Linked DNA regions of Homo sapiens. The protein of the gene in region 4 interacts with the protein of the main gene of each other region in a biochemical or structural test. Each region holds a gene or a part of one and is shown on either strand. Other genes may lie near its edges. The genes, in order: NOSIP, RGPD5, HNRNPD and TNPO1.

Region 1 (7,024 bases), on a different chromosome or scaffold from region 4:
CGTGCCATTGCACTCCAGCTTGGGCAACAAGAGCAAAACTCGATCTCAAAAAAAAAAAAAAGAATTTTCAAGCACAAAAGATATGATGTGCCAGGTGCAGTGGCTCACACCTGTAATCCCAACACTTTGGGAGGCCAGGAGTTCACTTGAGTCCAGGAGTTCAAGGCCAACCTGGGCAACATGGCAAAACCCCATCTCTACTAAAAATATAAAAATTAGCTGGGCGTGGTGGCACATGCCTGTAGTCCCAGCTACTCGAGAGGCTGAGGCAGGAGAATCACTTGAGCCCAGGAGGTCAAGGCTGCAGTGAGCTGTGATTGTACCACTGCACTCCAGCCTGGACAACAGAGTGAGTCCCTGTCTCAAAAAAAAAAACAAAAAGAAAAAACGATGTTAGATTAAAAATGGGTGGCAGAGAGGGAAGTGGAACGGAAATACAAGTTCAAAGAGAAAAACAGGACATGTATAATTTTCTGCTGTTGAAACAGCTTTTTCTTGCATTTTTCAAATGGTCTCAAATTATTACAGTATTTAGATTCCATCAGCTACACATTTACGTTGCTGGAAATTGTATCCTTTGCAACTGTTTAAGCTTGGGAGAATTTTTAGGTGGCAACTTAGAGATGAGTGAGACAAGTATATAATGTTACTAGATCTTCTCTCTTCTCTTCTTTTTCTTTTGACAGAGTCTCTGTCTGTCACCAGGCTGGAGTGTAGTGGTGCAATCTCCACTCCCTGCAACCTGCACCTCCCAGGTTCAATGAGTCTCCTGTTTCAGCCTCCCGAGTAGCTGGGACTACAGGCATGTGCCATCACACCCAGCTAATTTTTGTATTTTTAGTAGAGACAGGGTTTCACCATGTTGGCCAGGATGGTCTCGATCTCTTGATCTCGTGATCCGCCCCCGCCTCGGCTTCCCAAAGTGCTGGGATTACAGGCATCAGCCACTGCACCTGGCCATCAACTTCTTTGTTTTTAAATTTAATAGAGATGGATCTTGCTGTGTTGCCTAGGCTCATCTCCATCTCCTGGGCTCAACAGTCCTCTTGCTTCAGCCTCCCAAAGTTTTGGGATTACAGGCGTGAGCCCTGAGCCTGGCTCTAAATCATTTTAAGGGATAAAAAAGCCTGCAGGGGCCAGGCACAGTGACTCACGCCTGTAATCCCAGCACTTTGGGAGGCTGAGGCAGGTGGATCACCTGAGGTCAGGAGCTCAAGACCAGCCTGGCCAACACGGTGAAACCCCGTCTCTACTAAAAATACAAAAAAATTAGCCAGGCGTGGTGGCAGGCACCTGTAATCCCTGCTATTTGGGAAGCTGAGGCAGGAGAATCGCTTTAACTTGGGAGGCAGAGGTTTCAGTGAGCCAAGATCATGCTATTGCATTCCAGTCTGGGCAACAAGAGTGAAACTCCGTCTCAAAAAACAAACAAACAAACAGGCATGCAGGCTGTTTACTGGCCAAGCAGTCTTGGTGAAAGCTGCCCAGCCTCTGTGGGTTCAGGGCTTCTCCTTTTACAAATGAACTCCAGAAAAGTAGGGGGCTCCCTTCCTCACACCATACACAAAAATTAACTCAAAAAGTAAAAGTTAAAATGATCAAACCCCTAGAAGAAAACATAGGAATAAATGTGCATTATCTTGGCTTAGGCAATGTCTTTTTTTTTTTTTTTTTAATTGTGACAGAGCCTTGCTCTGTCTAGGTTGGAGTGCAGTGGCATGATGTCGGCTCACTGCAACCCCTGCCTCCTGGGCTCAAGTGATTCTCAGTGCCTCAGCCTCCCGAGTAGTTGGGATTACTGGCGTGTGCCACCACGCCCAGCTAATTTTTGTATTTTTAGTAGAGACGGGGTTTCACCATGTTGGCCAGGCTGATCTTGAACTCCTGAACTCAAGTGATCCACCTGACTCAGCCTCCCAAAGTGCTGAGATTACAGGCGTGAGCCACTACACCTGGTCTGAAACCACTTTAAAAGGGTTAATTTTATGGTATGTGAATTGTGTCTCAATAAAGTCATTTAAAAGGGTGGGGGTTGCCCTTAAGTATGGGGAATGATCAAAGGTATCAAAGTAAGGTGGCAAAATGTTGACAGCTGCTGGACCGCAGGACATGGGTACATCATGGGGGTTCCTTATACTATTCTGGTTTTGTATGTGTTTGAAAACTTACAGAATAAAAAAAGCTTTGCTTTTTGAATTGAGCTCCAGGGTTCTGGGGTCTTCTCTTCCTCCTTTACCTGCAGTGGGAGTGGAGGTAGCTCTTCCCCTAGACACAGAGCCCTACTCTGACCTGCCCTCTGATCGGTCGATCTGAGACATAATCACAGCTGCTAGATCCAGTCGCTAGTGGACTGGCAGGCAGCGATTGGGTCAAGCCTTAGCTAAGTGTCAAGCCTTAGCTAAGTGCCCAGCCTTGAGCCAATCACTGGGCTGGTCCACGCCTTGGCCTCAGTCAGAGCTTACAGATATGAGAGGGGAAGGGAAGGTGGAGTGGATTCATCAACAATAGTGGCCCCCTTGGTGTCTTTTTTTTTCCCCTCCATTAAATGGCACAGCCACCACCCTAGCTAATCTGAAGTAGTGGCTAGAATTTGAACTCTGGTCTCTCACCCTCTTACCTCCAAACAAAGAGTTTTGTTGTTAAAGGTGCTATTTTCACATATAAATGAGTCTAGGTGAGTCTGGAAGGAGGACTTCCTGGAGGAGGCCTGGCGACCACATGCCCTCCCTCTCTTCCACCTCACCCCCCTTCTCCGCCTCCGCTTTCCCATCAAGGGGGGCAGATCAGCTCTGAGGGCTGCAGAGGTCTTCCCTGTGCTGCCTGCCTCCGGTAACCACAGTCCTGCCACTGTCCCTTCCTCCCTAGGATGACGCGGCATGGCAAGAACTGCACCGCAGGGGCCGTCTACACCTACCACGAGAAGAAGAAGGACACAGGTGCAGGGCTGGGGTGGGAAGAGGCGGGACATGGCTGTGTCTTGGAGTCACCCTCTCCCCTCGTGCCCCAGGTTTTGCTTCCTCTGTCCCTGTCTCTCTCCCGCCCCCGATATACACTGATGGCCATGACCATGTAAACAACAGCTGGGTGATCCCATGACCCCATGTGGCCCGGCACTGTGTTCTCTGCCTTCTGCGCATGAACTCACTCCTCCCAACAGAGTGTCAGGGAGGGTGCTCTTGTTACCCCATGTTCCAGAGGAAGAAACTGAGGCCCAAAGAGGGACAGGCACTTGAGCTTGGTCACAGTCAGAAGGGTGGAGGGGAGTCAGCCGTCAGCCCCTCCACCAAGCTGCCACTCAGTGACCAGGCCTGTCTGCCTCTCACCCTCCAGGGTTGACAACTCCCTGTGGGTTCAGCCCGTGGCCCCAGCACACAGGCAGCGGCTCCCAACTGCCTGTTTCTCTCTGAGTCCCCCACCCCCACCACCGCGTTGTCTCTGTGCCTCTCTCTGGGGCTTTGGAGACGGACATGTCTCCTGTTGCTCCGCCCCTCCATCACTCTGCCCATCTCTGTCCCCAGCGGCCTCGGGCTATGGGACCCAGAACATTCGACTGAGCCGGGATGCCGTGAAGGACTTCGACTGCTGTTGTCTCTCCCTGCAGCCTTGCCACGATCCTGTTGTCACGTGAGCTGGGAACAGGGATGGGTAGGTCTGGGTGGGGAGAGCAAGGGAACCGCCAGGAGGAGGCTGTGTGCGTGGGTCTGGCCACCTGCACAGCCAGGGAACCCTGGATGAGCAGTTTATCCTCAGAGCCTCTGTATTCTCACATGGGACATGGGCATGATCCTAGCATCTGTTTCATAGTGTGGAACATATGGAAAGGAACATACTTCTAATGGGGTGTAGGGCTCTCAGAGCATTGCCGAGGCCATCGGAGCAGCTCACCTTTGGACACTTCCCATGACCTACCTCTGATGGTAGGGCAAAGGCTTAACAGGTGCTGAGTCCAGGCACTAAATACGTGCTCAATTAGTGGTATATTTTGTAGAAGACAGTAATTAATGATCAGGGCCCCCAAGGCCACCTTCAGGTTTCTTTTTTTTTTTTGAGACAGAGTCTTCACTTTGTTGCCCAGGCTGGAGTGCAATGGGGACATCTTGGCTCACTGATATCCCAGGCTCAGGTGATCCTCCTGCCTCAGCCCCCACGAGTAGCTGGAACCACGGGTGTGCACTACCACACCTGGCGTTTTTGTTTGTTTTTTGTAGAGAGGGGAGCTCACTTTGTTGCCCAGGCTGGTCTCGAACTCGTGGCTGCAACAATATGTGGCACACATTGTTGCTGAGAGAATGAAGCACTTTCCCTGCAGCTCTATTGGGAGAGGACAGCTGGAAGCTCAAATCTAGTCTCTACTAGATTCTGCCCCATGTGCCTTTTTCCTTTGCTGATTTTAATCTGCATCCTTTCACTGCAGTAAACTATCACCATGAGTATAACAGCTTTGCTGAGTTCTGTGAATTCTAGCAAATAATTGAACTTGGGACTGATCATGATGACTTCTGCCTATAATCCCAGCACTTCGGGAGGCCGAGGCGGGAGGATCACTTTCTTTCTTTCTCATTGCACCCTGTCTTTGCAGCCCAGATGGCTACCTGTATGAGCGTGAGGCCATCCTGGAGTACATTCTGCACCAGAAGAAGGAGATTGCCCGGCAGATGAAGGTGATGGGGATGGGGAGGAGGCGGCACACGGAGGCAGGAGCTTTTGAGTCTGAGCTCACAGGCAGAGCCACTCAGAGCCCTCTGATCTCAGTTCCCTCTGCCTGGTACACCATTCCCCTCCCCTGCTTCCGGCCAAATCCTTCTCACCGATTTCAGCCCAGATGCTGCCTCCTCTGAGCTCCTGCCAGTCCCCAGGATCTGCCCCAGTCACCTCTTCTCTTAGCACTTAGCATAGTTGTAGCTGTACATGTGGCTGTCTGACACATGCCCACTTTCCCTTATGGACTTCGAGTTTTCCCACCCTGTAGCTTAGGTCCTTAGTAAAGATATGCTAAATGGGTCGGGGGTGGTGGCTCACACCTGTAATCCCAGGACTTTGGGAGGCCGAGGCAGGCGGATCACTTGAGGTCAACAGTTAGAGGCCAGCCTGGCCAACATGGTGAAACCCTGTCTGTACTAAAAATAAAAAAATAAAAAAAAAAATTGAGCCGGGCATGGCGGGCGCCTGTAATCCCAGCTACTCAGGAAGCTGAGGCAGGAGAATCGCTTGAACCCATGAGGTAGAGGTCGCAGTGAGCTGAGATGGCACCGCTGCACTTCAGCCTGGGTAACCGAGCGAGATTCTGTTTCAAAAAAAAAAAAAAAAAAAAAGATGTGCTACGTGAATTGACATCACCTCATTTTTTCTGGGCCTCAGTTTCATCGTCTGTAAAACGGGCTGACGGCCAAATCAGAGGACACAGCAGGGCACCTGGGAGGTACACGCAGATGAGCATTCTCAAGGCGTGTTACTGGGAACCCGGCCTGGCCTTCCATGGACAAAGCCATTTGATGGGTAGGAGGGGCCCTGTTTGAGGCACAGTGGGTCTGTCCCCCTCTTCCCCTGCCTGGTTGCTGGCGCTCAGGAAACACTACAGGTCACATGCTTATTGGGCTTTTTGTCCCAAGCAGGTGGCTCCCCCTGTGCCCATGTCCTCCACACAGCCTGGTGGTCATGTCGGAGGCCCTCATGAGCATCCATCACTGTCACTGTTACCTCCTCACTCAGCTGGGTGGCCCAGGGTGGTCTGGAACTGCAGCACCGCCCAGGCAACTGCTGTGCGCCAGGCAGGGCTGAGCTCAGGTCATGGCTTCACTTCTCCCGTCCTCACTCACTGTCCGTCCATAGACATGGGCTCCTCAGCATTCCCTTAGATCTGAAGTCTACATCCCCCGTCCCAAACACGGGCTGGGGCATGCACTGTATAGAAAACTTAATTGGCCAGCAGGTGACATTAATTAAATGCTTAGCTGAGTGCCAGGTGAGGCTCTCCATGCTGTAAACACTCACCTTATGTAACCCTTCAGTGAGCCGCTGAGGTGGGTAACCACTGTTAGGCTGTTTTACAGATGAAGAAACTGAGGCCAGGAGAGGTCATAGTGCTCACTTAGGCCACAGAGTGACAGAGATGGGCTTTGAGCCCTGGCAGTCTGGCTATACAACGCAGTAAGGTTCACACCCACCCAGGGTGGCAGTTACCACCCTCTGCCACATAGTGCCTCCATCAGAGGGTCCCCTTTGTGGGCCTCAGTTTACCTACCTGTGAAATGGGAGGAAGATACCCCCAGCCCCACGGGCAGATGCTCAGCCCACTTTCCCCGACGCAGGCCTACGAGAAGCAGCGGGGCACCCGGCGCGAGGAGCAGAAGGAGCTTCAGCGGGCGGCCTCGCAGGACCATGTGCGGGGCTTCCTGGAGAAGGAGTCGGCTATCGTGAGCCGGCCCCTCAACCCTTTCACAGCCAAGGCCCTCTCGGGCACCAGCCCAGGTGACTCAGGTTGGGCTTCTTGTGGGTTGGGGGGCGGGGCGCCGCGGGCTGGGCGGGCCCAGGGGGCGGCATCTGAGTCCCTTCCTTCCCCCACAGATGATGTCCAACCTGGGCCCAGTGTGGGTCCTCCAAGTAAGGACAAGGACAAAGTGCTGCCCAGCTTCTGGATCCCGTCGCTGACGCCCGAAGCCAAGGCCACCAAGCTGGAGAAGCCGGTGAGCCCCCACAGCGCCCCGGCACGCACGGTGCCAGGGCGCCAGGGTTCCCCACCGTCCTCCTCACGCACAGGGACCACGCGCTCTCCACCTGCGCCAGCCCTGCCTACTGAGCCCGCCTCTCTCTGCCCCTTGCAGTCCCGCACGGTGACCTGCCCCATGTCAGGGAAGCCCCTGCGCATGTCGGACCTGACGCCCGTGCACTTCACACCGCTAGACAGCTCCGTGGACCGCGTGGGGCTCATCACCCGCAGCGAGCGCTACGTGTGTGCCGTGACCCGCGACAGCCTGAGCAACGCCACCCCCTGCGCTGTGCTGCGGCCCTCGTGAGTCACCTGGGA
Region 2 (7,024 bases), on a different chromosome or scaffold from region 4:
GGTGTGTTTTGTGTCACCATTAGGTGTAGATGGTCAGCCTTTTGAACAAACTGACACTACAGAAGAGGCAGGTTTCAGCTATCTAAAAAGGACAACTGTTAAAAAGTAGTTTGGATTGCTACGTTAGAGTGGTATCATTAGAAGCATTTAAAAGTTGAGTGTAGAGGCCGGGTGCGGTGGCTCACACCTGTAATCCCAGCACGTTAGGAGGCCGAGGCGGGCAGATCACAAGGTCAGGAGGTCGAGATCATTCCTGGCTAACACGGTGAAACCCCGTCTCTGCTAAAAATACAAAAAAAAACTCTACTAAAACTACAAAATTAGCCAGACATGGTGGCAGGTGCCTGTAATCCCAGCTACTTGGGAAGCTGAGGCAGGAGAATTGCTTGAACCTGCACGGCAGAGGTTGCAGTGAGTTCACTGGTATTAAGGTGGTTTAGTTATTACAGTATTTGGAAGTTGAACAAATGACTATTGAGGTACCATTTGGTTTTGACTTGAAATTTTAGCCAGTTCTTACAACTTGTAAATGAACTTTAGATCTAATCATGCGTGTTCCTTAAAGTTGTGTGCTTTTAACTTTCTTTTTTAGGGCAGCGGTCTTAATTCTTTTTATGGTCAACTAGAATACATAGGGAGAAGTGTTCATTATTGGAAGAAAGTTTTGCCATTGTTGAAGATAATAAAGAAGAACAGTATTCCTGAACCTATTGATCCTCTGTTTAAACATTTTCATAGTGTAGACATTCAGGTAACAGAGTTCCTTTATGAATTTATTGGAGATGGGAATTTCCAGTTTATAAACAAAGACGTGGAGCTATAAACTGCTTAAATTAATTGCCTTGTTATTTAACGGTAATCTTGTTTTCTAAATTCACTAGCTCTCACAGATAAGATATGACAGAGAAGAGTAATGAGATGTTTGTCTCTTAAGATCATATAAAATCTTTGGAAAATCATTTGGGTTTTATATTCTGAGTATAAACAATTTGACTAAAAACTATTCTATGTGTTTAGGCATCAGAAATTGTTGAATATGAAGAAGACGCACACATAACTTTTGCTATGTTGGATGCAGTAAATGGAAATATAGAAGATGCTGTGACTGCTTTTGAATCTATAAAAAGTGTTGTTTCTTATTGGAATCTTGCACTGGTAAGTAGATGCAGTACTTGAGCTAAAAGTTGTATTTATTTATTTATTATTTTTTTTAAAAGACGGGGTTTCTCTGTTGGCCAGGCTAGAGTGCAGTGGCACAATCTTGGCTCACTGCAACCTCTGCTTCCCAGGCTCAAGCGATTCTTGTGCCTCAGCTCCCGAGTTGCTGGGATTACAGGCATGAGCCACCATGCGTGGCCAAGCTGAAAGTTTTTTGTTTTAAAAAGCTAATGATTTCATGAAAGCACTATTTGTATAGATTTTTCACAGGAAGGCAGAAGACATTGAAAATGATGCCCTTTCTCCTGAAGAACAAGAAGAATGCAGAAATTATCTGACAAAGACCAGGGACTACCTAATAAAGATTATAGATGACGGTGATTCAAATCTTTCAGTGGTCAAGAAAGTAAGTAGCAGGTTGTTGTATGTACGTTCTTACTGATAACCCACTGGTCAGTGTTTTTGCGTTGGTCTTATATTTTGGTAATTTCAAAAATACTCAGTAATATGTTGTTATTAATGCACAGAAGGGATGCGTGTGTCTAAATGCTTAGATTTGCTTGCTTTGTCTTAGGTTTGGTGTGTCTTTTTAAACTTGGGAATCTAGGTATATGCTCTTAAAAAGTACTTCTTGGGGAATTAGAAAAGATTTCTAAGATAAGACATTGATTTTGTTATCTTAGCAGTGTAATCAAAACAAATATTATAACCTCAGGACTAATTCTTAATGAACTTTGCTGAAATTGAAAGTTGTTGCTGACAACTTAAGAGCATTTCTTCTCATCGTCATCAGCCATTATGAACGCCCTTGTTTTCTTGCTGTCAGCTGTTTGAGATTGTCATGATGATGTTAAATTATGTTCAGTCTTCTGAGTGTTTTGTTGATTAATTTGTGTTACTACTCTTTTATTAGGATTTATGTTGTCTGGTGTATTGTAGCATCTGTATTTCTGTCACCATTGAAAATCAGTTAGAAAACATCAGTAACTTATTTTGTTCACTTGGAAAAGCTTTCCAAGTTAACATTCCTCTACAATTATCATGGTTAACAGAAGTAATAGAAAGAGCATGGACTTTAGAATCAGAAGATGTTAGACTGTACAACACTTTTCTGTGTTCCTGAAGAAAAAAATAGAATAAAGACAAAAAAATAAAAATAATAATACAAAACAACAGAAAAACAAAGAAAAAAGATAATTAAAAAACACTTTCACGTGTATTATTATTTAAAGTGTAAAGTGCTTATTAAAGTGACAAAAATGTAAATAAGATAAAATATATCATTTTAGAGTTTTTACTTTTGGAATTTTTTGCAAATGAAAGCCCTTAATTAATGTCTTTTATTTTTAGTTGCCTGTGCCCCTGGAGTCTGTAAAACAGATGCTTAATTCAGTCATGCAGGAACTCGAAGACTATAGTGAAGGAGGTCCTCTCTATAAAAATGGTTCTTTGCGAAATGCAGATTCAGAAATAAAACATTCTACACCGTCTCCTACCAAATATTCACTATCACCAAGTAAAAGTTACAAGGTAAACAGGAAAGAATGGAATCATTTCATTGTGAAATTGTTTCTGTTCTAAGTGTTTTAAATGCTGTTTTGTTATTTTTATTTTTTTTTTCAGTATTCTCCCGAAACACCACCTCGATGGACAGAAGATCGGAATTCTTTACTGAATATGATTTGCCAACAAGTAGAGGCCATTAAGGTAAGTCACTTAATTTCTCTAGCTGTACTTTTTATTCCAAGATTCCTTCCCTGGCTACTCTCTCACTTTTTTTCTGAAGCTGGTCAGAATGTCCCCTTGCCATCCAAATAGTATGGCAAGGGGACATTTTGGTCTTTTTTTTTTTTTTTTAAGACAAGGGTCTTGTTCTGTTGTGCAGGCTGGAGTACAGTGGTATGATCACAGCTTACTGCGGCTTCAACCTCCTAGCTCAAGAGAGCCTCTTGGCTCAGCCTGCCACGAAGCCAGGACTACAGACAGTCACATGCCACCAGGCCCAGCTAATTGTTGTATTTTTTGTAGAGATGGGATTTTGCCATGTTGCCCAGGGTGGCCTTGAACTCCTGGCTCAAACAATCCTCCTGCTTCAGCCTCCCAAAGTGCTGGGATTGCAGGTGTGAGCCACTGTGCCCAGCCTACATACCTCGGTCTTGACCCTTTACCATATTTTGTTTTGTTTTGTTTTGAGATGGAGTCTCACTCTGTTGCCCAGTCTGGAGTGCAATGGTGTGATCTTGGCTCACTGCAACCTCCACCTCCCAGGTTCAAGTGACTCTCCTGCCTCAGCCTCCCGAGTAGCTGGGATTACAGGCACCCGCCACCAGGCCCAGCTAATTTTTGTATTTTTAGTAGACACAGAGTTTCACCATGTTGGCCAGGCTGGTTTTGAACTTCTGACCTCAGGTGATCTGCCCACCTTGGCCTCCCAAAGTGCTGGGATTACAGGTGTAAACCACCGCACCCAGCCCTTTACCATATTTTTGAAAGTACTTTATGTGTCTCTCTCCTCATCTTCCACAAAATTTGAGACCTTCAAAGGTAGAAACTGTTTTATTTAAAATATAAGAGTTCCTGACACAGAGAAGGTTCCCGAGTGATTGAAGTGCTACAATGTACTAATCATACTCTGGTCTATGAGTTCATTCCCAGATTAGCTGTGGATTACATGTGTTTCAAATGTATAGCTAGGAATCGAAAAGTGGTCTGAGCTTCAAAAAGTCTTACTATATTTTAATACTTCCATATGAATTTGACTTAATTATGTAAGGAAATAGTTATGTATATATATCTTATTTTAACAATAGGGTTCAAAGGAGCTTGACTTTTTTGGAATTGGAAATAAAAGTAGGTTCTTTCATGTTTATCAAGCAAGAACTAAATTACTCATACTGCTAAAGTTACATCAAGGATATGCTGATGTGTGGCGATTATTACAGTGTGATCAGCAGCATTTGCAAATTAAGAGAATACTATTTGGTGGGGAAGACATTTTTGAATTTGCACAAAAATTTTGAATGTTAATTCTGTGTAGTCGTGGCCTATGACAATTACATACAATTTTGACTTAACATACAGGTTTCAGGCTCCCAACATTGTATTCTGTGGAAGTATAGTGGAGCACTAGTCCATGAGCTTGAAAAGCTTGGTACTAGTACTGACTCTGCCATTAATTAATGATCTTGGGCCAGTCACTTCCTTTGTGACTGTTTGGCTTCTTATCTTTAAAATGAGAGAATTATTGAAGCCAGTTCTCATCACACTGAATGTTAAAAATTACAGTTACAGCAGTGATTGCAAATTCAAAGCTCTGGTGCGGATACCAACAGTGACTATAAAGTTTTCTAGGTGATTCCACTAGTTTCTTATTTCTTGGATGTGTATGTGTAGCATCTGGACTAGGCACTGTAGATGGATGAATGGGGGAAATTTTATTTAGCTTGAAAATTGAGATAGTTTTGGACCTCATGGTTAGGTCTTTCTGGGAAATTTTTAATTGAAACACTTGTAGAAACAGAAAGCAGACATGCTAGATCTGTCCCTGACCTCACTTGTTAGAACTGATCGGATTCCTGGGCTGATACAGAGAAGTTTGAAACTTTTCAAAATTTACCTGTTTTCTGATACCACTACAATTTCTTTGGAAAAAGAATTTCCTGTTAAGTGTCTGTTTTGTAAGGGGACATTTTGTAGGTTCTAGGGTGTTGGGTATGGTGCTGTCATTTAGTTTTCTTCAGCAGAGATCAAGTAGCCACATAGCTACACTAGACGGCATTGGATCTATCTGCCATCTTGTCAAGGCAGCAGAGTTGTGTTAAGAAAACATTTTTGGAGTCAGATGTGTTTCAAATTCCAGCTGTTATTCCCTGCATCCGTTTCTCTCATTTTAAGATAGGAGCTAATATTGTTTACCTAACAGTGTAGATGGTGTAAAAATTAAGAGTTTAAGTGCATTGGACGTATTATTATATACATAATAAATTCTCTGCAGCTACTACTTTTTTCCCTTTCCTGGTGGAGCATTTGAACATCACCTTGAGAATTAGTTGTATTTTGTTTGAACACAGGGTTAAGTGAAAAGCTAATTTGGGGAGGTGATTTGGAATGTCAGGTAGTCCAGGTTGCAGTGTAGAAAGAACACACTGAAAGGATGGTCAGTGTAATGTTAGAGGACTGTGAAAGTTGGGGAAAGAAGTTTAGTTTGTAGGTACTTGTTTTTTTGAGCAGGGAATTGTCTTGGCTGGAGGTGAACGTCAGAAAGGTTAATGTAGGCAAGTGTAGAATGGAAATGAAGGTGTGATCATTTAGGAGGTTATTTGTTTAGGTGAGAGAGTTAATGAATTAGGTTTTGTATTAACGAATGAAAATGGGAGCAGATAAATTTTTAACAAATTAAGAATCATATTTTAAAATCAGCACCAGGTACCTAGAACTCTTTGGCAAATAGAAACTTTCAAAAGATATAATCAGGTCCGGGCGTGGTGGGTCACACCTATAATCCCAGCACTTTGGGAGGCTGAGGTGGTGGATCACTTGAGGTCAGGAGTTCAAGACTAGCCTGGCAAACATGGTGAAACCCCATCTCTACTATTATACCAAAAATTAGCCGGGCGTGCTGGCTGACGCCTGTAATCCCAGCTACTCGGGAGGCTGAGGTGGGAGAATTGCTTGAGCCCAGGAGGTGGAGGTTGCGGTGAGCCAAGATTGTGCCATTGCACTCCAGCCTGGACGACAGATCGAGACACCATCTCAAAAAAGAAAAAAAGAAAAAATCAGTTATTTAAATTTAAAAGAGTAAGTTTCCCCAGCACTGTTTCTGGCATGATATAATTAAATGATTAAAATTATTTGATTTTTTTTTTCTTCCAATAGAAAGAAATGCAGGAGTTGAAACTAAATAGCAGTAAGTCAGCATCCCGTCATCGTTGGCCCACAGAGAATTATGGACCAGACTCGGTGCCTGATGGATATCAGGGGTCACAGACATTTCATGGGGCTCCACTAACAGGTGAGCTGGCAAGTGGATAATCGCATATTTTAGTAAAACTACTTTACTTCCCTCTTTTAAGTAGATAACGTGTGAAATCACCTTGTTTATATATGTTTGTTAATATACATGTCAACGTCTGTTTATATGTGACTTCAAAAGCTGTATTAGGTGTTACGGAGATTTTTATAATCCCAAGCAGAAAAAACGAGCCGTATGTGATCACGTGTATATAAAGGCTTAAAGAACACTTAATCCACACCTCAGATGAGCTGAGATGAGATTATTCCTTAAATTGCAAAATGTTATTGAATAGAGTTATGCACTAAGAAATGCTTAATTAAGAACCTACACCTCTGGGGAATTATTTTGATGATAATGATGAGAGGCAGGACGTTATATAGGAAATCTTACTTAATTTGAAATATTATGGTTATATAAAGAAAGAAAAGGAGTTTGGACCTGAATCATACTGGGTTTTTAAGTTCTGCTCTATCACTTACTATAATAGCTGTGTAAGTTAACCTGTCTGAAATGTGGAGATAATACTTGCCTTACATAATTACTATGAGCATTTGTGTATGTGCAGGTGGGCGTGGGTGTGTATCAGACATTTATTAGAGTATACAGTAAACAGTTAATGAACTAAGGTTACTAATAGTGTTTACTGTGGGTTGGCTGTGTGCAAAAGTGCTGTGTGAATGTAATTTGATTTAATTACAGTAACTTAGAATGGCCGGTACCATTATTAATCCCTTTTTTATAAATAAGGAAATGGATAAAGAAAGGTTAGGTAACTTACTCATTATTATACAGCTAGTTATTGATAGAGCCGAGATTCACACTCCAGTGGTGTAACTCCAAAGCACTTGCCAG
Region 3 (6,845 bases), on a different chromosome or scaffold from region 4:
TCCATCACCAGGTCATTTGAAGAAGCGTTTCGTTGTTGTTGTTGTTTTTGAAACAGGCTCTTGCTCTGTCGTCCAGACTGGAATGAAGTGGCATCACTGCTCACTGCAGCCTTGAATTTTTGATTCAAGCAATCTTCCCACCTCAGCCTCCTGAGTAGCTGGAACCACAGGCTCACGCCACCACACCCAGCTAATTTTTTTTTTTTTTGAGACATAGTTTCACTCTGTCACCCAGCTTGAGTACAGTGGTGCAGTCTCTACTCACTGCAACCTCTGCCTTGTGGGTTCATGTAATTTTCCTGCCTCAGCCTCCCCAGTAGCCAGGATTACAGGCGTGCGCCACCACGCCCAGCTTATTTTTGTATCTTCAGTAGAGATGGGGTTTCACCACATTGCCCAGGCTGCTCTCGAACTCCCGGCCTCAAGTGATCCACCCACCTCGGACTCTCAAAGTGTTGGGATTAGAGGCGTAAGCCACCGCACCCGGCAACAGAAACGGGTTAAACACAACCCAAGGCGTCCCTGGGTGGGCAGGAACTGATTTTTTAAATTTTTTGTAGAGATAGGTTTTGCTATGTTGCCGGGGCTGGTCTCAAATTCCTGGCTTGGCCGGGCGCGGTGGCTCACACCTGTAATCCCAGCACTTTGGGAGGCCGAGGCGGGCGGATCACGAGGTCAGGAGATCGAGACCGTCCTGACTAGCACAGTGAAACCCCGTCTCTACTAAAAATACAAAAAAAATTAGCCGGGCGTGGTGGCAGGTGCCTGTTGTCCCAGCTACTTGGGAGACAGGAAGGAGAATGGCGTCAACCCGGGAGTGAGCCGAGATCGCGCCATTGCACCTCCAGCCTGGGCAACAGAGTGAAACTCTGTCTCAAAAAAAAAAAAAAAAAAAAAAAAATTCCTGGGCTCAAGCAATCATCCCTCCTTGGCCTACCAAAGTGTTGGGATTATAGGCATGAGCCACAGCACCTGGCCAAAAGTTTTTTTTTTTTTAATGCCAGAGATGAAATGAGATGGTGTGGAGAGGAGACTTTCAAGTCCCTGGAAGAACACCTAGTTTGCTTGAAAGCCCCTTAATCTAACAAGTTGGACATACTTATTATTTTGTCATTCAATAATTCAACTGGCAATTACATAGTGTGGATATACTGCTGCTGTGTTTATGTGTGTGTGAGAGTGTGTTAGGGAGGGAGAGATACATAGAAGACACTGTTTTCTAAGAACTCATGGTCTAGTAGAAAACAATGAAGAATAACAGAGGTAAAGATAAAGGGCTGTGAAAAGGGATCATTAATTCTGCCTCAGGAAGCCTGGGAAGACTTCACATAAATAGTAACATTTGTTTGTTTTTGAGACAGGGTCTCACTCTGCCTTTCTCACTGCAGCCTCCACCTTCCAGGTTCAAGTGATCCTCCCACTTCAGCCTCAGGAGTAGCTGGAACAACAGGAACCACCATGCCAGGTTAATTTTCTGACTTTTTGTAGAGGCAAGGTCTCACTCCGTTGCCCAGGCTGATGGCCAACTCCTTGAGGCAAGCAATCCTCCCGACTTGGCCTCTCAAAGTGCTGGATTACAGGCGTGAGCCACCACGCCTGCCAGAAGTTAAGTGAGTTCCAAGAAGAATATTGTGTGGATGCAGGAGCACATCCTGGATGTAGAGATCTTGGCCATAATATCAAGGACTATCAGTGATATGGACATCATACATCCTCATAAAGCATGTAAAGGTGTTAGCTTTAAAATCATTCCTAGGTTGTCTGGAACTTTTGACATAAATTCTAAGAATTCCAGAAGCTCCTAAGCTACATGTGAAATCAAAATGAACCTTTTGGAAAAGTCACTATTACCAAAAGGTGGGTATGTCTAATGATATCTTAAGATCAAAATAAATGACAATTACCGTCACTTGAGCCAGAAAAGATTAAACAGACTTCCCTTCAGTCAATCATCTTAGTTGTATCTAACCCGGAATATATGGTTTGAGCACCATATCCACTTTATCCTTTGCTAATATTCTGGCAGGTGGAGACAAATGTGGAGTCACTACCACTTTACGGTAAACATTCTTGGTATTACCTTTATGTGACTTGATTATTACGGGAGTTTGGTAAGATTATATTTTTAGGACGTTTTCAGAATTTGACCTGTATTCTTGAGTTTTAATTATTCTGTAATGTAAATTCTACTAACTTGATTAATAAAACTTACTTATAATCTTCCTTTGAGATTTTTGGATAGTGTCCAATTAATACAAATTCGTTTAACTGCAGTGGAAAATACCTAAACTTTTTTTTTTTTTTTTTTTTTGAGACGGAGTCTCGCTCTGTCGCCCAGGCTGGAGTGCAAGTGGCATGATCTCGACTCCCTGCAATCTCCACCTCCCGGGTTCAAGCGATTCTCCTGCCTCAGCCTCCTGAGTACCTGAGATTACAGGTACCGGCCACCACGCCCGGCTAATTTTTGTATTTTTAGTAGACACGGGGGTTTCACCATGTTGGTCAGGCTTGTCTCGAACTCCTGACCTCGTGATCCGCCCGCCTCGGCCTCCCAAAGTGCTGGGATTACAGGCGTGAGCCACCGCGCCCGGCCCAAATACTTAAACTCTTAAGATTTTTGCTGGAGTCTGCAAACTCGTCTTTGTTTCCCCCGTGCCCGAACACTTTAATTAAACAGGCAAATAATTATTTGTTGACTACAGAAGTACCTAGAAGCTTCATTTTCTTCTAAGGATACTGCTGGAAGCAGCAAATCCCAAAGCCCGAATAATCCAGTCTCCAGCCGAGGCAGCGGGAATTTTTAATAGGTGTATAAAATTACTTTTTATACACCTTAATGAAACGCCTAACGGTGTTACAAGAAAAGAAAAAAAAAAACCACGCACACACAACAAAAAAGCCAAACCCGAACACAAACTCATAAACCTCGTAAAGATGACTCACGACATTTATATATTCTATGTACAAAGGCTAAAGAACATTAAGCGAACCCTTGATTTAACACACTTTCCAATTATTAGTAACGTAAAGGAATCACGGTACGTTTTAGGATCTTTAAACAACAAAAGCAAAGCAAAAACAATGTTTTCCTTAAGATATGCAAGTTACCTGCTTCTTCGACCAAAAACAAAAAAATTCCAGGAGAAAAGCAGGCAAACAAAAATCTTACTTGGAAAGCCAAATCTTAAAAAGAAGCCCTATCGGCCCAGCGGCGATAGACGAAAACCTCAATGTCACCCGGTCCCGGGCGGCGACGGCAGGGAGAGTAGCTGCGGCAATCAGTGCGCGCGCGGTCCGCTGCGGCGCCTGGCGCTCCGCGGGCGTCCGGGTGGACAGCGCCAGGGGCACAGGGCTGACATCTCAGGGCTAATTCCCTCCTCCAGTGCGTAAATCCAGGCTTAAGCCGCCGCAGGGTGTGAGCCTCCCCTCCCCCACCCGAACGCCGCAGCTGCACGGGGCACGACAGCCTTCGCAGAGGTGCAGCCACACCCCGGCCTAACGCTGCTGCTCCCGCCGCTACTGGAGTGGTGGGGAGGGGTGAGTGGACTCCAGGAATCCTCGGAAGGGCGGGGGCGGAGGCAGGGGGCCCCTCTAGCCGCTACTTCGAAACAGCACTCCTTGTTCTCGATGGTCCCCGCGCGACTGTCTTAGCTCACGACACTTCCGGTTCCTTTTAAAGGCCCCCAAGGCTGTGCAACGCGGAGCGTGAGAGGAAGGTATAAAGGGTAGCGAGAGGGCGGGACCGAGGAGGAAAGGGAAAAAAAAAAAACTAGGGGGATAGGGGTGGGGGGACGCGCGAAGGGCGCGCTCTCGCGTCACGTGACCGGGACGCGCCGTTCTTCCGTCGGCCATTTTAGGTGGTCCGCGGCGGCGCCATTAAAGCGAGGAGGAGGCGAGAGCGGCCGCCGCTGGTGCTTATTCTTTTTTAGTGCAGCGGGAGAGAGCGGGAGTGTGCGCCGCGCGAGAGTGGGAGGCGAAGGGGGCAGGCCAGGGAGAGGCGCAGGAGCCTTTGCAGCCACGCGCGCGCCTTCCCTGTCTTGTGTGCTTCGCGAGGTAGAGCGGGCGCGCGGCAGCGGCGGGGATTACTTTGCTGCTAGTTTCGGTTCGCGGCAGCGGCGGGTGTAGTCTCGGCGGCAGCGGCGGAGACACTAGCACTATGTCGGAGGAGCAGTTCGGCGGGGACGGGGCGGCGGCAGCGGCAACGGCGGCGGTAGGCGGCTCGGCGGGCGAGCAGGAGGGAGCCATGGTGGCGGCGACACAGGGGGCAGCGGCGGCGGCGGGAAGCGGAGCCGGGACCGGGGGCGGAACCGCGTCTGGAGGCACCGAAGGGGGCAGCGCCGAGTCGGAGGGGGCGAAGATTGACGCCAGTAAGAACGAGGAGGATGAAGGGTGAGTAAGGGGCATCCCAGGATAGTCAGGCCCAACTAGTCCCCCTCCCCCTCTTTATTCCCCCGCCATTAGGCCTGGTTCCCGCTCTCAGCCCGTTCTCCGGGCCCCCATGCAGCCTCCTTGCACTGGTCTCCCTTTTTCTATGTTGGGTTCCCCGGACCTTCATTTCCTTCTTCCTTTGCCTGCTTATCGCCCCCCTCCCCCATCACACACGTTTCCACCTTTAGCCGTCACCATGCTGCTCCTCGGCCCGCCCTCCTTTCCTCCCTCGCCATGGGTCTCCTCCCACCGACTTAGCCGCCAGGATTTTTTCCCGCCTGTCGTGGGGTACCTTTTTTCTTTCCATGCTGTCCCCTCTTTTTCCCTTTTTCTACAGTCTTGGGCATAAAAACACAGACACAAACAGCTTCTCTGTTTGTATTACTAAGGTTTATTTGGTGCTTCTCCACCATCCTGAAACGATGCGATTGTTTATAAGCACATGTTTTGGGGAACGCGTAGGCTGTCCACCTCTGCCTCTCCCTTGTCGGCCTTAGGCCGACTGTTTTCTTGGGATTTTGAATAAGTTTCGCCTAAGGATTTACTCATTTTCTCCACCATACGCTATCGCACAATGGCATACTCATACAGGCCCTACATTTTGACATGCAGACCAAATTGGGTCTGGTGAAATGCTCCGAGTTTCTTGTTGGTACATTGGTTTTGCTCCGCGGGCTCTGGTTAAGTTCTTAGTCGATCGGGCCTGCACTTGACTGGAGCTGTTCCTATCTCCGGCCTAGCATCTACCCTTCCCCCACCCCACTGAGTTATTCTAACCGCGCACCCTTTTCGCGCCCTCAGCTATTGGGTTCCCCAACTGTTAGTACAGATTGTACCTTACTTTTTATGTGCAACCTAATTTTTTACAACCCCCAGCCCCCTTTTTTTCCCGGTGCCCAGGATCCTATTTTGGTGTCTTGATATCTGTTTCCCGCCCACTAAGGGAGGCCTGTAGTCCTCTTAAGAGAAACAAATCCTGTATTGTGCTATGGGATACTTTTTTTTTCTTTTTGGTGCAAATTTCTTAGTATTAACTTGCTTCCTCCAATTGAAATAACAGTTGTATATACTACCTAAATCTGCATTTAGTGTATTAAAATGCAGCATTTGGGATTGGGAACATAATACGGGAGTTAGCAGGAGGGACTAAATCAGGTTTCTTGGTTGAGTTTTCTTAGCTCCGATTACTGACCGATGATCGTGGGTTCACGCTTCCATTCCTTTTTGTAATGGGGAGGGGTGTGTGTGTGTCTGAATTTTTTTTTAACTGTAAAGAGAAAGGTGTTGGTGGATATAACAAGATGTCGCTTTAATCTAGTATTAGAAAACACGATTTCCTTTACTGAGAAAGAGCCCAGGATTTGGAGGGAAAGTTGGGAGGGGAGAAGCACTTTGGAATATAGGGTTTATTAAGCCCAGCCTAGGCAGATTCTTGTCAGGCTGTTTGATGATAGTGCTGGTTTTGGGGGAGTGGTGGTGGGAAGGGAAGCAAACTTTTAAAAATTAAACAGAACCAACTCGAATTGTATATAGCTTATTTGAGAAAGGAAGATGTTAGATATTTGGAAACTTAAAACCTTTAACATTTTGGTTTTCGTTTGCTGAATTCTGTTCTTTGGACAGAGGCACCAAAATGATTAATTGTATAACTTCCTGTTTGGGGCAGGCTTTCTGTTAGCCCTGATAATTCAAATCGCAAAGCAGCTGACTTTATAGTTACCTACTGTTGAAGTGTAAATGAATTAAAGTTTTTAACCCTAACAGTGTCAAAAACTAAAACTAGAATTTTGATTGGTTGCTGTACCGGTTGTTAATTCCCTAGCCATTCAAACTCCTCCCCACGACACTCTGAAGCAGCGACGGCACAGCGGGAAGAATGGTAAAACTTTTAAATTTTATTTCTGTATTATAAAGGTTTCAGTAGTCATAATATGTAGAGGCTGTGTATTGGTTAGTTGCCCATTGATCCCCAGGAAATTCTAGACCATAGTACATACAGTAGGTTTGTACCTGGGATATATACCTTTTATAGGCATCATGTGTAATCTTTGGGCAAAATTGATGCCGTTACATGGTATTTGGTCTGTGGTAATGCATGTAGTTGCAGTTTGGCAATTTAAGCTAAACAATTAGTAACGATATTTTTATATCGAGCAAGAAAAAATATTACCGTAATCTTCACATTTGATTTATTTTAAGATGAAAAATATTTTTGTTGGAATTTAAGTTTAATGGCTAAATATGAAGACTCCTTGATATAAAATATTGTGTTTAAAATGTCATGCATGTTATACTGAAATATTCTGGAGATGTCTGAAGCAGTTCTTTAAGCAGCACTGTGTATTATGGAAAAATGTTTGTCTTTTACCTAGCATATTTGTAAATAGACCTTTAATAAGAAGTGTGTGTGTGTGTGT
Region 4 (7,902 bases):
AAAATTTAATTCCATGTTTACTTCTGATAATTTTATAGTTTTAGTGCTTATATTTTGTTCTATGATCCATTTTAAGTTAATTTTTGTATACAGTGTGAAGCAGACGTCCAATTTTGTTCTTTTACATGTGGATACCCTGTTGTTTCAGCACTATTTGTTAAAAAATAACTACCTTCTTCCCATTTAACTGTTTTGGCTCCTTTGTTGAAAATTCACTCAGCTTCTTGAATCTGTAGGTTTATCTCTTTCACCAAATTTCAGAAGTTTTCAGACATTATTTATTTGAGTATTTTTAGCCTCACCCTTTTTCTTTTCTCCCTCTAGGACTCTGATTTCATGAATGTTACATCTTTTGTTGTAGTCACTTAGTTCCATGAGACTCTGTTCTTTTTAGTCTATTTTATCTCTTTTTTAGAGTGGATAATTTCTGTTGTTCTGTCTTCAAGTTCCTTGATTCATTCCTTTGTCTCCTTCGTTCTGTTACTCAATTCATTTAGTTTTTTATTTTGATTATTGTATTTCTCAGTTCTAAAATTTCCATTTGGTTTTTCTTTATGTCTTCTGCTTATTTAATGAGACTTTCTATTTTTTTCATTTGTTTCAAGTGTTTTTGTAGTTGCTCACTGAAGCATTTTTATGATGTCTGCTTTAACATCTTTGTCAGATAATTCTAACATCTTTGTCTTCTTGGTTTTGTCATTTATTAATGGTCTTTTTTCATACAGTTTGAGATCTTCCTAGTTCATGATATAATGAGTGATTTTCATAAAACCTGGACGTATGGGATATTTATGAGGTTTTGAATCTTATGAAAATCTCTTTTAGCTGGCTTTTTCTAACATGGTACTGGCAGGGGAAGTGGGTATGGGGAACAGGCACCACCTCATTGTTGCCAAGTTGGAGGAGACATCCAAGTTCCTCATTTGGCCTCCACTGACACCCAGGATGGGAGACTCCTTGTTACTGGCTTGTGATGATGAAAGTACTGGTTCTTTATTTGACCTTCTCTGACACCACCCTGGGAAGGAGGGCTTAGGGCACCTCTAAATAATTATTTAAATATTTTTCCATAATGCTAACCTGAAGATGTTTCAGTGTAAGGCAATTCTTTAAACTACCTAATAGTCTGGTGAGGGTGGGGATCTAGGCTATCCACTAGGACTTTGCTGACATGAGTAGGATGGGGTCACAATTCTGTCTGTAGTTTTGCCTAGAGTATGCAATTATTGTCAAAAAGTTTTCTGTCTGCCATACTCCTTTTCTGGCCCTTCAGCTGGAGCAGTGTTTTGATGGGGCCTTTTTAGTCTGTGCCATTGGTGTTTCTAGGTTGCTGATGTGTAAAGTTTCAAGTCTCTAAAGACTCTAAAGCAAAAAGAAAACACAGGCAATTAACCATCATGTTGTTCCTTGGGTTCCAAGGTCTCTAGTTGATCTGTCTTCTTTCCACCATTTGGAGACCTTTATGTTTGTTTTATACATAATGTTCAGAAGTTTTAATTATACTTAGTGGGAGGAATAGGGACAAGCATATCTATTCCAACTTCCCAAAAGTGGAAATCTAAGTAGACCTTTTTATAAGCAGAATCATATTATAATCACTAGGACATATTAATACTTAAAGGAGATTTGAAGTTAATTTTTCCCAGTTAATAACTCCCTAATTTATATTTTTAAGAATTCAAACTTTATATATTGGGTTTACTTTAAATGAGAAATGCCTGTAGATTATTTACACATTTCTGAATATTGACTACAATTGTCCTCTTCAATATTTTAATTAAATTCTTCCAAATAATTACTGAAACTTTTTTTCATAATGTCAACCTGAAGATGTTTCAGTGTAAGGCAATTCTTTAAACTACCTAATGTGAAATAATTGTCTTCCAGAAGTATAAATGGTGACAATATTTTAGAAGATCCTATTCTATTTTATTTGTTTATTTTTATTTTTTCATTTATTTTTGAGACGAAGTCTTCCTCTGTCACCCAGGCTGGAGTGCAAATGAATGGCCTGATCTTGGCTCACCGCAACCTCTGCCTCCCAGGTTCAAGCAATTCTCCTGCCTCAGCCTGCTGAGTAGCTAGAATTACAGGTGCCCGCCACCATGCCCAGCTAATTTTTGTATTTTTAGTAGAGACGAGGTTTCACCATGTTGGCCAGGCTGGCCTCAAACTCCTGACCTCAGGTAATCCGCCCATCTCGGCCTCCCAAAGTGCTGGGATTACAGGCGTGAGCCACTGCGCCCAGGCTTATTCTATTTTAGAAGCTTGCCTGTATATAAAAAATTACTTATCTTACTAGGTTTCCATATACTCACCAACAATTGCCTATTAAAGACATTTATTTAACAATTTTTGAATTTCCAGACTTACTTTTTCAATAATATTCCTCCTTCTCAAACATCTTTGATTTATATTAATGTCTAGTAATACTTTCATTCATTGCCCTCTAACAACCTGCCCTGCACTCTGCTAATGAGTTCTTTATGTAACTTATCTTACTTAATCTTGTTTCAGACAAAAGAAAGTGAAGCTCAGAAAGACTGAGCCAAAAGCATTCATAAATGGTAAAGCCAGCATCTGCATATAGGTCCTCTGCCTGCAAGCTCCACACTTGTTTTAACAATGCTACACCTGACAAAATAAGCATCTTGTCATTCCTAGGTGAAAGCTTATAGGTATGTTTTCTCCCTCAGATGCTATTTTGTAACTTCTAACATGTTTTTATTTTTATCTTGGTAAATTTTTCACCTAAGAAAATAAAATTAATACAGAAATTTTAAATATATCTATGTTTTAAAGGTAAAAACAAAGTTTATAAATTTTAACTTCATTTTTGTCATTTAAAAATTATTAATAATTCTTCAAAGTTTTACCACATGAGCATATTTAGGTATAAAGAGAAAATACTACTGGATAGCTGCTATTATATGTGCAAACTGTCAAAGAAAAATAAAATAAGCCATGTTAATAAATCCTTGTTAATAAGATTTACTGTTTAAAACATGTTTTTTTAATTTGACCTAGAAGAGACAAAAAGGCTACATGTGTAAGAATCTCTATTCAACAGAACTATTTTATATTAGTATTTTCATTCACTTTAATTTTTACAAAAGAATACATATTTAATTTGCTTAATCTCAATTTTACAACATCTGATAATCAACATTTTTTTCTTTCAAAATGTTTTGGCCAATAAATCCTCTTATGCTAAATAATATGTTACTTTTTCTTCAATTCATTTCAGCTATTTCCAAACTATTAATCAAGTGAACTCCTACTAATTGCTTAGTCAGTAGTATTTACATCTGTCATTATTTGCTAATCTTTTGGATTTTAGAAATATTTGTGTTTTTTCCTTTAGCAAAGTAGAATGCAAATACTACACATCTTCTGATTTGTATAGATCCTAGTCCACGATGTAACTTTTCAAATGCAGAAATAAGCCATTTGTTATTTGGATAAATATACTTTTTCTGGGTATATTTTCCTGCAGATAAACTACCATTCAGAAAAGTTTATATTACATTTTTTTCTTGGTAATCTACTCCTATTTGGGGGGGGGGGCTCTTTTTGATATACACTACTGTATCCAATTACTATCAAATTAATATTATAACATGTTGAAATCATGAATATTTTAGTTATCTATATTTTCCCTTGCTAAGTTCAATTTCCCAATGATTAAAAAATGGTACTTTTAGTCTCAAATTTTAAGTTAAATAAACTAGTTGTTCCTGCAAAATGACTGTAATTCAAATGAAAATTGTTAACACGTTTAGAAGAACAAATAAATTACCTTAGTAAAAATTTAGACATTTTCTAGTATTATGTACTGTAATTTTACCTAAACTATGACAGGAAGGCAACAACTGTCACACATTTTCAAAATATATACAGCACTTCCAGTAAGATAGTCGGAACTGCTGGTATTTCTACTCACACTGATCATGTGAGGAATATTATCACGGGCATCATCACCTTAGAAAATAAAAATCAGCTAGCTATGCAAATTTTAAGTATTTTTATACAGTAAATTTTACATATAAGAATAATCTGAGGGAAGGAAACTGATATTTATCTCATTACCCTTGTTGCAGTTGGGTATAAAAACGTCCACCACTCCCATTTTGAATCATTTGCCGTACAGAAAATACAGGACATTTTAATTTCTCATGATGGCAGGTTAGGGAGAGAAAGGCTTGTTATTTCTAAGAGCAAGAAACTACAGTTTTATAGGATTGAACACCTGGAGGCGTAAACATTTTATAAATCACTGAATTCTAATTACATAGTAGTTTATACGCCAGATACAACATACGTCAAAAGCCTATCTTGTTCTAAGCGGGCAGCCATCCACCGGCGTCTACCTACCGAAGCCATTTCTGCTTTTTACCAGCGACGCTGGAACAGTGTTATTGTGGGATATGTTCAGTGTTGAACAGGCTCCCAGGGCACGGCTGTTACTTTGGAGGTTATGCTGGGGTACAGAAGTTAGGCTGGGGCAGGGCCATCCACCTAGGAGGGCCCAGCACAGTCTGGGCAACCACACCGGCGGGCCGTTTTGCTCACAGCCCCACCGCGCCGGGCAGCGTCTGCAGCTGCTGCGTGCGAGACCCAGAGGCTCCGGTCAGCGCGCCGGCCGCAGGGAGTGCGAGCACTTGTGAGCCCCGCGCCGGGCCGGTGAAGTCTGGTGCTGCCGAGCCCGCTTAGAAAGCACGGCCGCGCGCTGTCGGACGCAGGCCCACAGGCCCAGCCGACCCAGGCAGCAATTTTCCTAGCCCCGCCGCCGTTGCCAAGGCGACCGCCGCCGAATGTTCCCGCCGCGGGCTCCGCCCCCCGGCCAATCGGACCGGCGCTCGGTGAAGCCCAGATTCTCTTTGTTCCGCAGCCATTTCAGGCCCCGGACAGGAGGCAGTGCCGCTTCGGCCGAAGGCCCGAGCGCCCGAGGCGTCTGGGATGGTGTGGGACCGGGTAGGTGGCGTGAGGGTGCGCGGCCCCGAACTGCAGGGGCGGGAACGGAGGCTGGGAGCGCCGAGCTGCCTGACGCGCCTACGGGAGAGACGCCGGGCTCGCCCGCTCTCTCGGCGCCTGCCCGGCCGTTTGAAGCCGAGAGGCAGCGGCGGCGCGGTTCTAACCCCAACAGCTGCCCGCCCAGGCGCCCTGCGGGACCCGGGTAGGGAGCAGGCGACGGCGGCTCCTCAAGCGTCCGAGGATCCCGTTAGGGGCGGCAGGAGCCCGTTACAAGGGGCGGGAAGGGAAGGGTCTTACATTCAGGGGAGCGTTTGCCTCGCCTGTTAAGCTGTGGCGTTTGAGGGCCCTTGAGTGCTGCAGTCGGCTGCCCCGGGACGGCTGCCTTTCACTGGTTCTGGGCGCTGGCCGGCGCTGCCCGAGATGGGCCAGTCTTTGTCCCGCCCTGGGCCCCTCTGCCCGGGTCTCCTGCGTCCGCACACAGCGCCCATCGTCCTTACATGCAGCTTGCCGTTCTCTTCCTCCCGGCGGTTCTTTCTCCTTGGGGCCTCTTGGCCTCACGACATGTTTACATAATGTTTGTGACTGTACGAGTTTTGCGTGGGCTTGTGGGTTTTGCCCTTCTACCTCCACTCCCATGCGTACAAGCAACAGGGAACAGCTGCTGAGGAGCAGATTGGCCACCACAATCAAGCTATTTTCGGAATGACTTTCTTTAAAAATGATCGCGTGTTGCTTACTGATTTTAAAAATCAACTGGATTTTGCAAGGATTGCTTAGAGTTTAAGTCTGTTATCTTAATCGCTAATCAGGATGGTCTATCAGTAGATGTAAATGTAGAAATTTGAAATTGGAGGCTATCTACAAATTGATTTTGACAGCTGTATTAAGAAGCTTAATAACTGTCCTTTGAAACAGTAATGACTTAAATGATGAATGTGTAAGTGGTACTTTTTTTACCCTAAAGAAAAGATACTTTTAAAATTGCAAGATGTATGGTGTAATAGGTGTTTGGAAATGAAGGTTGTAAAATGGCTGTCCTGACGTACTACTCACTTTTAGAATAACAAAAGTTCCTGCAGCTTTTTAAGTTTCCCTGTTATATCAAAGCTTTCATGTTAGAGTGGTGAAGAAGCTATGTTTAGTGGAAAAGGGGAAAGTTCCGTTTTTTGGGAAAGGATCTGTTTTCCACTTTCACCTTACCTGGCACCGTAGTTGTTCCTAGAGAAGGCTGTGCCAGGATGAAAATTAGCAACCACAAAAGGGAAACAATAGTTTGTAGGTGCAGATATCTTTTTTAGTCTCTAGCTATGCAGTGCATAAATTTATACTAGCTTGGCAGTACGATTTTTACTTCATGCAATTTAACGTGAGCCTAATGAAGTACTAGTGTTCTGTTTTCTTTTTCCTAAAAGGGGCCGCCACCCTTGATGTGGCTGCATCTTTCTCCTAGTCAGGAATTATTAAATTCCTCCCACTGAAATATCTATAAAAATCTTGTTTGCACTTCTACCTCAACTCTCAGTGGCTTTATTACCATTATATAATGTGAGCAGAATAAGATTTTTGTAAAAATACATGATTCTAGTTGTAAGCTTTTCCAATATCAACATTTCTTATTGTATTCATTGTTTTTATGACTGTAGTTTTGCTTATTTATAATTTTAAAGCCATTCCATGAACTCAGTTTTTCTAAATGTTGTAAATGAGCTACTACATTGAAATGTAAACATCTGTATTTAGAAGAATTTCTTGAATTTTAACCATGTTGGATTCTGCAAATGTTTTTTTAAGAAAAGAAACCTGGTTATAAAGTGACGTCAAACCAAGTGACATAGGTAATGAAATAAATGAATTTATCAAATATAAACTGCAGAGAGGAGCACAGCAGTAAGTGGGGGAGTTCTTTTTATTGGCCAGGGTATAAATTGTGATATTTTTTCCTGAGATTGATATTTGAATACATATTGGTGCTAAAAAGATATCTTCCCCCCTCAAAACAGTTTGGTTTACCAGCAAAAGGATGAGAAAGCTGAGAGAATCAAAGAAACTGATGAGGTTTTCAAAAACAATGGCGAACAATGCCATCCTCAAAGAGGAAGGATCAGAAACAGTGAAATTCCCCTGGAGGTTGAGGATTTTTCTTAGTTGACCCTATTCAGCCATTGCCATGGTAAATCTGTTGAGTGTTGGCAGGTGAAGGAGTCTTCTGGGTTGTACAAGGGATGAGCTTCACAATGGAAGACAGATGTTTGCAAGAGTGGTGCCTTAATCCGTATTGTGTTGCTGTAAAAGAATACCTGAGACTGGGTCATTTATAAAGAGAAGAGGTTTATTATTTAGCTCACGGTTCTGCAGGCTGGGAAGTATAAGAAGCAAGGCGCCGCCATCTGGTCAGCTTGTTGTGCTGCATCATAACCTGCTAGAGAAGGTCAAAGGGGAAGCCACCCCAGGCAAAGAGGGGGAAATCTGAGGGAAGGGCCTGGCTTTCTAACAACTCACCCTCAGGGAACTAAATCATGTCCACCAGATCATGATCAGATTTCAACATGAATTTTGATGGAGACAGACACACCATATTCAAACCACAGCAAGTGGTAACTGATTTGTAGTTGTATGCGTGGATGTTAGTTAGGAGAGGTTTTCAAAAGCAAGTTTGATTGGGTTGCTTTGAAGGGTCCTTTGAAGTACTGTAAGTTGCTGTAGTAAGTAGGAATATTAGAGTTCTAGAGTCTGAATGGTCAAATGAGATATTGAAATGGGAAATAGGGAGGTGGATTTGTCCTGGAATTTTCTGGAGTAGATAGAATACATATAGGAATAGTGGCTACATCTTAATCCAAAAAGACACTCCATGCCAGAGCGAATATTACAACTCAGTACTGAAAAAAAGCTGATAACCGTGAGACCATAAAGTTGGGATTGATATAT

The links.
Region 1: the proteins of TNPO1 (region 4) and NOSIP form a complex in vitro, tested with the Homo sapiens proteins (one study listed by BioGRID).
Region 2: the proteins of TNPO1 (region 4) and RGPD5 form a complex in vitro, tested with the Homo sapiens proteins (one study listed by BioGRID).
Region 3: the proteins of TNPO1 (region 4) and HNRNPD form a complex in vitro, tested with the Homo sapiens proteins (one study listed by BioGRID).

Annotation. Positions count from the first base shown.
Region 1 is NC_000019.10:49,556,534-49,563,557, reverse strand, and holds part of NOSIP (nitric oxide synthase-interacting protein), read left to right. Parts: intron 1-2,865; coding exon of another isoform or gene 2,866-2,866; coding exon 2,867-2,936; intron 2,937-3,518; coding exon 3,519-3,624; intron 3,625-3,653; exon of another isoform or gene 3,654-4,123; intron 4,124-4,208; exon of another isoform or gene 4,209-4,579; coding exon 4,580-4,661; intron 4,662-6,308; coding exon 6,309-6,468; coding exon of another isoform or gene 6,469-6,477; intron 6,478-6,564; coding exon 6,565-6,683; intron 6,684-6,821; coding exon 6,822-7,009; intron 7,010-7,024. UniProt on the Homo sapiens protein: E3 ubiquitin-protein ligase that is essential for proper development of the forebrain, the eye, and the face. Catalyzes monoubiquitination of serine/threonine-protein phosphatase 2A (PP2A) catalytic subunit PPP2CA/PPP2CB.
Region 2 is NC_000002.12:109,825,284-109,832,307, forward strand, and holds part of RGPD5 (RANBP2-like and GRIP domain-containing protein 5/6), read left to right. Parts: intron 1-592; coding exon 593-751; intron 752-1,017; coding exon 1,018-1,155; intron 1,156-1,417; coding exon 1,418-1,564; intron 1,565-2,508; coding exon 2,509-2,688; intron 2,689-2,781; coding exon 2,782-2,865; intron 2,866-6,033; coding exon 6,034-6,169; intron 6,170-7,024.
Region 3 is NC_000004.12:82,370,990-82,377,834, reverse strand, and holds the start of HNRNPD (heterogeneous nuclear ribonucleoprotein D0), read left to right. Parts: upstream 1-3,843; 5' UTR 3,844-4,156; coding exon 4,157-4,389; intron 4,390-6,250; coding exon 6,251-6,307; intron 6,308-6,845. UniProt on the Homo sapiens protein: Binds with high affinity to RNA molecules that contain AU-rich elements (AREs) found within the 3'-UTR of many proto-oncogenes and cytokine mRNAs.
Region 4 is NC_000005.10:72,811,779-72,819,680, forward strand, and holds the start of TNPO1 (transportin-1), read left to right. Parts: upstream 1-4,882; 5' UTR 4,883-4,959; coding exon 4,960-4,974; exon of another isoform or gene 4,975-5,176; intron 5,177-7,902. UniProt on the Homo sapiens protein: Functions in nuclear protein import as nuclear transport receptor. Serves as receptor for nuclear localization signals (NLS) in cargo substrates.